3 linked regions of the Homo sapiens genome follow. The protein of the gene in region 1 purifies or fractionates together with the protein of each later gene. This does not show direct contact. Each region holds a gene or a part of one and is shown on either strand. Other genes may lie near its edges.

What was found.
Region 2: the proteins of SMG7 (region 1) and RFC3 purify together in Homo sapiens (affinity purification with mass spectrometry, with the first as the bait; one study listed by BioGRID). This does not show direct contact.
Region 3: the proteins of SMG7 (region 1) and TRIM71 purify together in Homo sapiens (affinity purification with western blotting, with the first as the bait; one study listed by BioGRID). This does not show direct contact.

The regions. Positions count from the first base shown.
Region 1 is NC_000001.11:183,548,974-183,552,627, forward strand, and holds part of SMG7 (nonsense-mediated mRNA decay factor SMG7), read left to right. Parts: intron 1-234; coding exon 235-315; intron 316-790; coding exon 791-950; intron 951-1,777; coding exon 1,778-1,948; intron 1,949-2,071; coding exon 2,072-2,217; intron 2,218-2,844; coding exon 2,845-2,958; 3' UTR 2,959-3,654. UniProt on the Homo sapiens protein: Plays a role in nonsense-mediated mRNA decay. Recruits UPF1 to cytoplasmic mRNA decay bodies.
Region 2 is NC_000013.11:33,824,553-33,828,206, reverse strand, and holds part of RFC3 (replication factor C subunit 3), read right to left. Parts: intron 2,419-3,654; coding exon 2,321-2,418; intron 1-2,320. UniProt on the Homo sapiens protein: Subunit of the replication factor C (RFC) complex which acts during elongation of primed DNA templates by DNA polymerases delta and epsilon, and is necessary for ATP-dependent loading of proliferating cell nuclear antigen (PCNA) onto primed DNA.
Region 3 is NC_000003.12:32,890,862-32,894,515, forward strand, and holds part of TRIM71 (E3 ubiquitin-protein ligase TRIM71), read left to right. Parts: coding exon 1-950; 3' UTR 951-3,654.

The sequences.
Region 1 (3,654 bases):
GAATATAATCTCTGACTAGGTTTGATCTAAAAGGAGGATTCTATGCACCTGTGGCAACTGGCACTTAGGCGGTGTCTTGGTGTTAACAGATTTGAATTCACATCTTCTGAGCCTCAAATTGTACTCAGTGGGCGAATACAGGCATGCTTTTGCTTTGGTTCCATAGTATGGTAAGATTAATATTAAGAAAATAGAAGGTATAACTTAATTACCTTTTTTTCTGGGACTGTGAAGAAATCCTTATTGGAGAAGCCCTCAGAGCTCATGTCACATTCATCCTCTTTCCTGTCCCTCACCGGATTCTCTCTCAATCAGGTAGGTGAACAATGAAGAATCCTGCTGTGTGCTTTTAGTGTAGACTGATCATTGTCTTTCTCATACTGTTTCAGTATGTCTGTTTTTTCTTTATTTTCCATGTATTAGTGTATTCCAGATATTTGATTTTATCCCCCTTGTCTCTGATTGGGGCATACTAGTGACTTGTACATCATGAATTAAAACCCTTTAACTTCTCATTAATATTGAAACCCTTAGGGCTCTCTTTTTGAGCCAAATAAATTATTCACATTTTCAACCTGGATAGTTTACACAGAGCAAATTTAAGGGTGAGAGAAAGCAAAGAGGAAAATTAATTTGACTGGAAAATTGAAACAAAAAGAAATAAAAGCCTTCAAAATTTCTCTTCCTAAGAAAAGCTTAAGGTGTACCAAGCATCCATGAACAAGACATTGGATTTTCTCAAATCTCTTTCCTTGGGGTGAGTTTATAACTTCACTGTCATGTCTTTCAGGAAAGATACCCAAATAATAGTATGTTCAATGAGGTATATGGGAAAAACCTGACATCCAGCTCCAAAGCAGAACTCAGTCCCTCAATGGCCCCCCAGGAAACATCTCTGTATTCCCTTTTTGAAGGGACTCCGTGGTCTCCATCACTTCCTGCCAGTTCAGGTATTAACTACTCTTTAAATTATAGACCTTACATTTCCTGTACACTCAGATTGATTAAGGGATAGTGAGATTCTGTAATTACAAATATATCATTTGTTGGGTTATTTTTATTTTTTGTTTGTTTGTTTTTGTAACTTCTGAAAGGAAATAGAAAAAAAAAAAGAAGAAGCCGGTTTATGTAATAAATGCTACTGACAAAACTTTTTACATCCTCAGTAGCCAGCAGAGATGTAAGGGAGAAAATAGAGGTTCTATCTTATGGTTCTCAGCTGCTTTTTAGTTTTATTTGTAGGTGTTCATTCTTTGCAGAAAAATTGCACTTTTTTTTTTGAGACAGTGTCTTGTGGTGTTGCCCACTCTAGACTCAAACTCCTGGGCTCAAGCAGTCCTTCCATCTCAGCCTCCCAAGTAGCTGGGACTACAGGTGCACACCACTGTGCCCAGCTCTGCACTTTTTAAAATTGAGATTTTTAACTTAGAGTCTGACTTAATAGTAATTCTTAAGGTTAGCAAATTCTTTCTGATACATAAGACCAATAAACATGTATCTGAAATAGCCGTGTGAGAATAGGGCATTCATTCAGTTGACAAAAATTGCCTACTATTTTATTTTGCTTTTTTAAGGCGAAGAATATGCCTTAGATATGTGTGGCAGGGCAAATTAGTGCATCTAGCAGATCTCTTTGGAGCCTTTAGTTTCCCTTTCCTTCAAAGCCCTGTGGTTATTGTTAGTAGAATTTTAGTGATCAGATCTACAGGAACCTGTAGTTCTTTGTATGTTTGTGAAACAATGATTTACTATATCCTGTGTTGCTATTATTTAATAGATCATTCAACACCAGCCAGCCAGTCTCCTCATTCCTCTAACCCAAGCAGCCTACCCAGCTCTCCTCCAACACACAACCATAATTCTGTTCCATTCTCCAATTTTGGACCCATTGGGACTCCAGATAACAGGGATAGAAGGACTGCAGATCGGTGGAAAACTGATAAGCCAGGTGAGATCTACATTTCATTGCCAGGCAAAATTGAAAGAATTTACTCTATCCTTCCCTGGGGTCTGGCAATTGGCAGTGATAGAACATCTTCTTGAATTTTTCTTATCTCTTTTCATCCCTTAGCCATGGGTGGGTTTGGCATTGATTATCTCTCAGCAACGTCATCCTCTGAGAGCAGTTGGCATCAGGCCAGCACTCCGAGTGGCACCTGGACAGGCCATGGCCCTTCCATGGAGGATTCCTCTGCTGTCCTCATGGAAAGCCTAAAGGTGAGTAGATTTCAGGAACAAGAACCACAAGATTATTACAGCAAAGGTGTCTCTGCTTTCATTCACATAAATAGCTAGACTTCTCAGGCCCTCGGAGTTGACTGATACATAGCACATATATAACAAAGTCCTAGAAACATGGTCTGCCTTACAAGATTCTTGAGTGATAATTTTTAATTTCTGAATTCACTAGTGGTAAAGCAGTATCTTCAGGAGGACAAAAACAAAGGTTTTAGTTTCATTCTAAGGTTAAGAAAATTCTGATTCATTTTGGAATGTTTGATTTAAGCCTTTTCTGACAAAATAAGAGTATCTAATTTTAGAAATGTTTTATTTGCCTGAAAACTTTATAGTAAATGCCCTGTGTGGTACCACATACAGCTGAGTTTCAGTAAAAAGACTTGACATAAAATGTGATTTCACTTCTTCTGGTTTAAAATAGTCTTAATGGAAACTAACTAGCTTTAAGAGTCTTATAATGACTTTTTCTAATAGCTGGATTTTTATGGGGAGTGGGGTTGGGTTTTGGGGCCATATATATGCCTTTATATTTGGCTGGGATTGAAAAATCCCTTTCAGACAACTTGGCATTTGACCTCTGCTGACAAGATCTGGACTGTTTTTCAGTCTATCTGGTCCAGTTCCATGATGCATCCTGGACCTTCTGCTCTGGAGCAGCTGTTAATGCAGCAGAAGCAGAAACAGCAACGGGGACAAGGCACCATGAACCCTCCACACTGAGGCCAAAGTGGCAACCTGGGAATGAAGGCTCCATAAACCATGGCATGTTGGGTTTGCAGGACTGGCCCACACAGTCCCCTGCAGGTGGCAGCCCTCTTTTCTGTTTCTCGCTGTCAAGAGGGTGTAAGTATTCCACCAGCCCGCTGAGTGTGCACGAAATGTTCGCAGTGCAACAAAAAGAAAAATCCATCAGGAACTCTCCGTCCCCCCGGGGCCCTCCGGAGGGAGAGAGAGAGGAACTGCTGTTTATCTCACTCAGTTACTTGGTATCACCGCCTCTCACCTTCTCCATCGTGCATGTCCCCAGCCACATGGGAAGTGAAAGCTGAGAAGGGAAGGCAGATGGGAGAAGCCAATGGGAACTTCTCAGTCCTTTTTTCCTCTTTGGGGAATAAAATAGGAATCCATTAATGATTGCTTTGCTGACTGAGAATGTAGTTGAAATTATTCTTAAACATCTTTTATTATTATTACTCTCAGTAGTAAAATATCACACTGAATTCTTCCATACACAGGTGTGCTTCTAGTCAGTGTGTAGCAAGGAAAGCCCCGTTCACTGCTCCTGTGAGAGGTTGGTGGTGACAGGATGGGGAACCGACCTCTTCAGCCAGTGGAAATGTTCCATAAGGGAGAGTTCAAGGCCTGTCAGAAGGCTCTGGTAGGCCTTCCTCTGGCCAGGAGACTCCAGCAGGGAAT
Region 2 (3,654 bases), on another chromosome or scaffold:
GAATAGAGCTCAGAACACAAGGTCATTTATTTACTTTATTTTTTTATTTTATTTTTTTAGAGACAGGGTCTCACTCTGTCACCCAGGCGGGAGTGCAGTAGCTTGATCATGGCTCACTGCAATCCCAAACTCCTGGGTTCAAGCAATCTTCCCACCTCAGCTCCCAAGTAGCTAAGACTACAGGCATGAGCCTAATTTTTTTTTTTTCTTCCTTTGGCAAGATCGGGTCTTGTTGGTCTCAATTTCCTGGCCTTAAGTAAAGTGTCATATATTTTTTATCACTTTGTAAAAATAATACAAGAGGTAGCTGTAGAGCCCCAGACCTAAAAAAAACTCTCTGGCCTTCCTCTCCTTCCCTAAGTACAGGAAAAATCACTTTACTTTTAACAAAATGACCAACACAAAAGGATCATGGCCAAATTTCAACAGTTATGCAAGAAAGACGAGCAGAGGAGCAGAATAACATCTTTATGGATATGAAAGAGACAAATTATTTCCTAAACTGTTACTTAATTCATAGTTATTGTTCTTTTTAAGTAACAGTAAGCTTCATGTAAGAATAGGTTAATTCAACTGTAATTGGGTGGTAAAATATTGTTCACATTTTTAATGACCCTACAACATTTCACTTTTAAAGGTTTGTAATTGTAATCAGGTATTATTAATTTTGATTAAAATTTTAAATTTCAACTAAATTTCTTATAATAACCGATGTTCAACATTTCTCTTATAATATTAATAACAGATTGAGGATAATGGCACAATATTTCCTATATTTACATACACATATCATTATTTTGTATAGTGATGTTTGAAACAGTGACTAAGCAGTACTTGGTAGGCAGAAAACAGCAAATTCAACATGACAAGTCATGTTTACTCTAGAAATGCAGAACAGTTTTGTTTTGCCTTTTTTTGGAGATATAGTCTCGCTCTGTCACCCTGGCTGGAGTACAGTAGTGCAATCACAGCTCACTGCAACCTTGAATTCCTGGGCTCAAGCAATCCTCCTGCTTCAGCCTCCCAAAGCACTGGGATTGCTAGCATAAGCCACTGTGCCTAGCAAAAGTTTTAATATTAGAAAATCCAGTAATATAACCTATGATATTAATGAACTAAAGAAAAATCATAAAAGCATATTCATGGATGAAAAAGAAGCATCAGACAATATTTAACACACATTTGTGTTAAAGACACTCAATAAAATAGGAACTTGAGAATATTTTCTTACCATGATCAAATACATACACCTCAGACCAAAATCCAGCAATTAATTATGGGGAAACACTAAGGCTTTACTTCCAGAGTCATGACATGGACATCTGCTATCTCTATTACTATTAACCACACTATTGGAGGGTTGGCCAACATAATTAGAGAAGAAAAAGTATTTAGAGCCATAAAAATTGGAAAAAGGAAAAACAATTTACAGATTACATTAATATACATCTAAAAAAACTCAAACTACCAAAATACAATTAAAAACAGTAAGAGAATTTAATAACATAGCAAGATATAAAAGTAGGATATGTTAGTAACTCACATATATAAAACATTCAGAAAATATAAGACTCCATATATAGTAGCAAAAAATAAATTCATAAATGTAAATTTATTTTGAAATATGGAGACTGAGGAAAGAAATCAGCTGAGAATATGTACAGCGAATTCACAAAACAATAAAAATGAGCAATAAAGGAAAAATTTATCACACTCACTAAAGAAGAACAAAACACTATCTTCTCCACTCAAACTGACAAAGATTAAAACAAATTATCCTCAGTGTTGGTAAATGTCACGGAGAAATGAGCACTCCCAAACACTGCTATTGGTAGTATAAATCTATACCCTCTTTCAGATAGAGAATTTGGCAAAATATATCAAAAGCATTAAATGATGGCATATTTATTATCACAAAATCTCACCAGTAAGAATGTATCCATATATATAGAAAAAAATGCTTGGATGGTAAAGTCTAAACTGTTATTAGTAGCTGTCTCTGGATGGTGGGAATATAGCTGATATTATTTTCTTTTTTATCTAAATATCTGATAATGAACATATGACTCGGTCATAAGAACAATTATTTTAAAATCATGTAATTTCTGATTTTAAATCACGTATTTTTATTCATCTTGTTCTAAAATATCAAATGGATGGCACAAATAATCCTCTTTCACATAAAATTCAATTCCATTAGACTATAAACTCCCATGAGCCCAGAGATCAGGCTTCTCTCCTGTTCACTTTCATAACTCAAAAAAAAGAGAGAGCACTAATGCTTGGCAGCTTCATAAAAAGAAGTCTTTTGATCACCTACCTTTAAAATCCCTTTGAGAGTTTGTTTCAAGTTGTTGTGATTGTGCCACTGTTTTCAACATCTCCTGAATGACTACTCGGTCACTATTTCCAGCATCACTACACAAAACAAAAATAATGGTATATAGTATGCCCTTAATATTGTTATTATAAGAAAAATGGTGAAGTTCTTAAGTGGTCAAAATTTTAATCAAAATTAATATCACTTAACTATAATTATAAGCCCTTCAAAAGTAAAAAGTTTTAGGGTCATTGAAAATACTAACAATATTCCAATTGGATTAACATCACTGAAAACACTAAATATGTTGTTACATTAAGTTTACTGTTAACATAAAAAGAGCAACTACTAATAATTAGGTAACAGTTTAGCAAATACTTTGACACTTCTGTACCGACTATAGAAAATTAATACCTAATTATAGCTAATTTCTCAACTATCTATAATTGTTGAAAATACAAAACGTAACTCTTTGAAACAGAAATTCAATCCCTAGTCCTCTTCCACATCCCCAAAATAGCAAAGATCTAAGAGAGAACAAACAAAGAGAAGTCTGCTCCCAGCACTAGAATGAAACTGATTCAGAGACTCAGTAAAGCGATGAGATAAGCAAATTGAGTTTAAGACACAAAGTCAAAACTCCGTAAACTGATGACTTATTATAGGTATTGAGCTGTCATTTACACCAATATTATTGCTTTGGCACTTCAGTCAAAGACCTCTCAAGCCAAGAGAAGTCAATTTAGGCTGATTCAATGTTAATTTCAATCACCCCAAAAGCAATCGGCTTATTCTCCAATTGCTTATCTATGCTTCAGAAGAACTCACGATGAGAAAAACAGGTCAAAGCAGTTAACTTTATTTTCTCAAAGAGCCACTAAGTTTTCCCAAGTCACTACTATTATTATAGATCAATATACCTACAGTGTTGCTCTTACGATCATTTTCCTAGCCAAGAATCCAAAACATTCTCCATTTGTATCTGGAATTAACATTCCCTTTGTTTCTTTGATCAAACCCATTCCCAACAACCTTATTTCTCTTAGTTTTCTTTGAGATGCCTAGAGAAAATAATAAAACCTATCTGTTAGGGTTGTTTTAAGGATTAAATGTAATAATACAGGTAAAGCTTCTCACAAAGTGCCTGCTACTGAAAACAAGATACACATTAGCTTGTAATGGTATTCCTCCTGCTCCATTCGGTCTCCTCCCTCTCCCTGAAATGGATGTTCACTCTTGCCTCTATGTCACTGCCCATGTTGAATATGACTGACAATATCCTCAATTCTGTTCTCCTTTAAGAACTCATACAGCCCCACAGATCATAGCAGCTT
Region 3 (3,654 bases), on another chromosome or scaffold:
GACCCCAGCTGGAGGGTGAGCACCTGGTATCTGTGACACTGTGCAACCAGCACATTGAGAACAGCCCTTTCAAGGTGGTGGTCAAGTCAGGCCGCAGCTACGTGGGCATTGGGCTCCCGGGCCTGAGCTTCGGCAGTGAGGGTGACAGCGATGGCAAGCTCTGCCGCCCTTGGGGTGTGAGTGTAGACAAGGAGGGCTACATCATTGTCGCCGACCGCAGCAACAACCGCATCCAGGTGTTCAAGCCCTGCGGCGCCTTCCACCACAAATTCGGCACCCTGGGCTCCCGGCCTGGGCAGTTCGACCGACCAGCCGGCGTGGCCTGTGACGCCTCACGCAGGATCGTGGTGGCTGACAAGGACAATCATCGCATCCAGATCTTCACGTTCGAGGGCCAGTTCCTCCTCAAGTTTGGTGAGAAAGGAACCAAGAATGGGCAGTTCAACTACCCTTGGGATGTGGCGGTGAATTCTGAGGGCAAGATCCTGGTCTCAGACACGAGGAACCACCGGATCCAGCTGTTTGGGCCTGATGGTGTCTTCCTAAACAAGTATGGCTTCGAGGGGGCTCTCTGGAAGCACTTTGACTCCCCACGGGGTGTGGCCTTCAACCATGAGGGCCACTTGGTGGTCACTGACTTCAACAACCACCGGCTCCTGGTTATTCACCCCGACTGCCAGTCGGCACGCTTTCTGGGCTCGGAGGGCACAGGCAATGGGCAGTTCCTGCGCCCACAAGGGGTAGCTGTGGACCAGGAAGGGCGCATCATTGTGGCGGATTCCAGGAACCATCGGGTACAGATGTTTGAATCCAACGGCAGCTTCCTGTGCAAGTTTGGTGCTCAAGGCAGCGGCTTTGGGCAGATGGACCGCCCTTCCGGCATCGCCATCACCCCCGACGGAATGATCGTTGTGGTGGACTTTGGCAACAATCGAATCCTCGTCTTCTAATTGCATTTCCTAGGTTTCTGTGTTTGGGGTGTGTGTGCGTGTCTCTCTCTCTCTCTCTCTCTTTCTCTTTCTCTCTCTTTTTGAATTTCAAAGAAGAAACAGTCTCAGGGAAATTTCTTTTTTCTTTTTTTTTTTTAAAGAGAACAAGAAAAGTACAACATTGCTTAAGTCCTACCTCATCTTTATTTTTTTACAGATGAATGTACTTATCTTTTCTGCAGGGATTGAGCCTGTGAAGTGATAATTTCTATCTACCTCATAAATCTTTACATTTCCTTCTGCAACAGGCCCTCTTCCCCTCCTCAGTGGAGTTTGCATTTCCCTCTTCCCCTGCGTGGGGCATGATATGCACAAGCCTGGCATCTGTATGGCTGGGAGGGCACTGGATGTGTGTGGTGGGGTGTATTCTGTAGATTGAGCCAAGGAAACACAAAAAAAAACTACTAAGTAAAAAAACAAAAAACTATAAAACATGGAAAAAATAGGATTTGAAATGCATAATTATAGAATACCTGTGTTCTTGAGAATACTGTTTATATGGGGTTTAGATTATGTTGTGTTGTTTTGATCTTTTTGGAAAATCTTCTCTTTTTAAATGCTGCAACAGAGAAATTTCCTCTGTTCTCTGTTTATACCTCAGTGTGTTTAACATCCTCTTCTGCATCGTTTCTTGATCTTAGACGTTGTGGCTGTGGCTTGCTAGCCAAGAAAAGCAGACCCTTCATATTTTAGGGTATATAATCTTTGTTTCTTTTAAGGGAGGGTGTGTGCATGTTTGTTTCAAAGCCATCTTGCACCCAAGTAGTAAAGCTGAAAATGACACACTGCCTCCCAAAGAACCTCTCCTTTTCACACTTTGGTTTCTTAAAAAAGTATATAGATGGTAGCTCAGGATTTTTGATTAAACATATTCTCAAAAGTTATGCTTTCTTATTTTGCTGTTAGGTTATAAAGGGTTAAATGGAAGGAAAAAGGAAATTAACCTCGTTCTCAGAGAGAGGGTTTTCAGGCATGGGCTGACGTGGACATGAATGTGGGTGGACATGCGTGTGCTGAGGGAGTCAGGGAGCACATTAAAGAACAAGGCACCCCCAAACTATAGGAACTCCACAGAAAGGGCAGGGTCTGCCCTGACCCGCGAGTGCATGTTGTTCTGTAGTGCTAGGGGTTTCTTTTCCTAAGAAGAGTAGGCAAAGGAAAGAACTTTTATTTTACAAGCACAATTTTTTCCTGCTTTGAAAGTTCAGGGAAATAGAAGGTTTGAAAGTCAAATTAATACCAACAGCCCAGTCCCACACCCTCTGCTTGGGTCACTTTTTATAGGATTGTTTGCACCCAGGCCATGCTTTAGGACCTCATGGTTAACATGAATCCCCCCGCCCCCTCTCCCCCCAAGGCCTTTGACCATAAAGGATCTAGAAACCAAATTGTCCCAACCTGAAATGTAGGATGTAATGTCTTTTCTTAAACCTGTAACTCGGTACCAAAGAATGAAAATTTAAGGCTCCCACTGCAGAACTGTGGGGTAGAATCTGTGTCACTTTACAGGATTGGTTGGTTGTAAGCTGGACTTGGGTACAAAACTTGTGCTTCTGGGCATTGTCTGTCTTTCAAGTGCAAAGCAGATGTAGCTGATACCCTGCTTGTCAGAACCCAGTGGGTTCCTGCAATGCCCCAAATACTGAAATAAGAACCAAATTCTGGAGGAGCCCTCCTCAGGGAAAAGAGGGACTCTCAAACAAACGTCAGTGACTTACAAGGGAGACCTCTTGTTTAAAGACTTATGGATCAACTTCTGTTCCTCTGTTTAAGAGAAATTTCTATTGCAAAATGGGTATCGTTTTAAATGAGCAGAACAGATTAACAAATGGAGCAATTTGTTTCTGTTATCCCAATAGAAAAGGAGATGATGGGGACAGTGTGACAAGTCAATCAAGTTGCTTTTCCCGTACACCTCTTTTGGACGTTTAATTTACTACTACTACAAGCTACTCTGTCTCTTCCCATTGCTTTAATTCTAGGGTTTCTGAGTGACCAAAATGGGAAGGAAAAAAAAAACCTCATCTCACAGAGGAGAACTGCATGCAATAAAAGATTCAAAAGTTGGAAAGTAGCTTCAAACTGCTGCTGGCTCCCAGCTGCTGTTACAGGGTGGGAAGGTGTTAGGAAATGTTGTTTGTTAGAAGCTCCTTTTACTGTAGAATTTAATAGTGAATCCTTCCCCAATGCCTATTCAGTTGCCTTTTGGCCGTTAAGCTCTAAGTTCTTTGGTAAAGAGTTAATATAATTAAACATTTTTACTGTTTTCTATTTTGGAGTAACTTGGTGCTGATCTTCCTTCCCTTTCCCCAGCTGCCCAACAAGCCACCCTTTAAACACCAAAGACAACTGGTTTTAAATGCTTGAAAAAAATTTTATTGAGGAGATGGATCTTGATTAAAATCTTTTCATCATCATTTTCATTCTGCTCTTTTCTTTCTAATTTCCCCAGATGTAGGAAAATTTTGGGACCTGAATGAGAAATGTTCTTGGTGCATAACAGTAACTAGAGCTCCTTATTTGACATTTTACTATGGATGTGATCGAAAAGCCAAGATTTTCGCTCCATGGCTGAAATTATCAGGTCTTAATTTACAGACTTGTAAATTTGCAGGCTTAGAGCAACTAGAACTATCCCCTGAAATAGGTGTGTAGGTCAGAGATA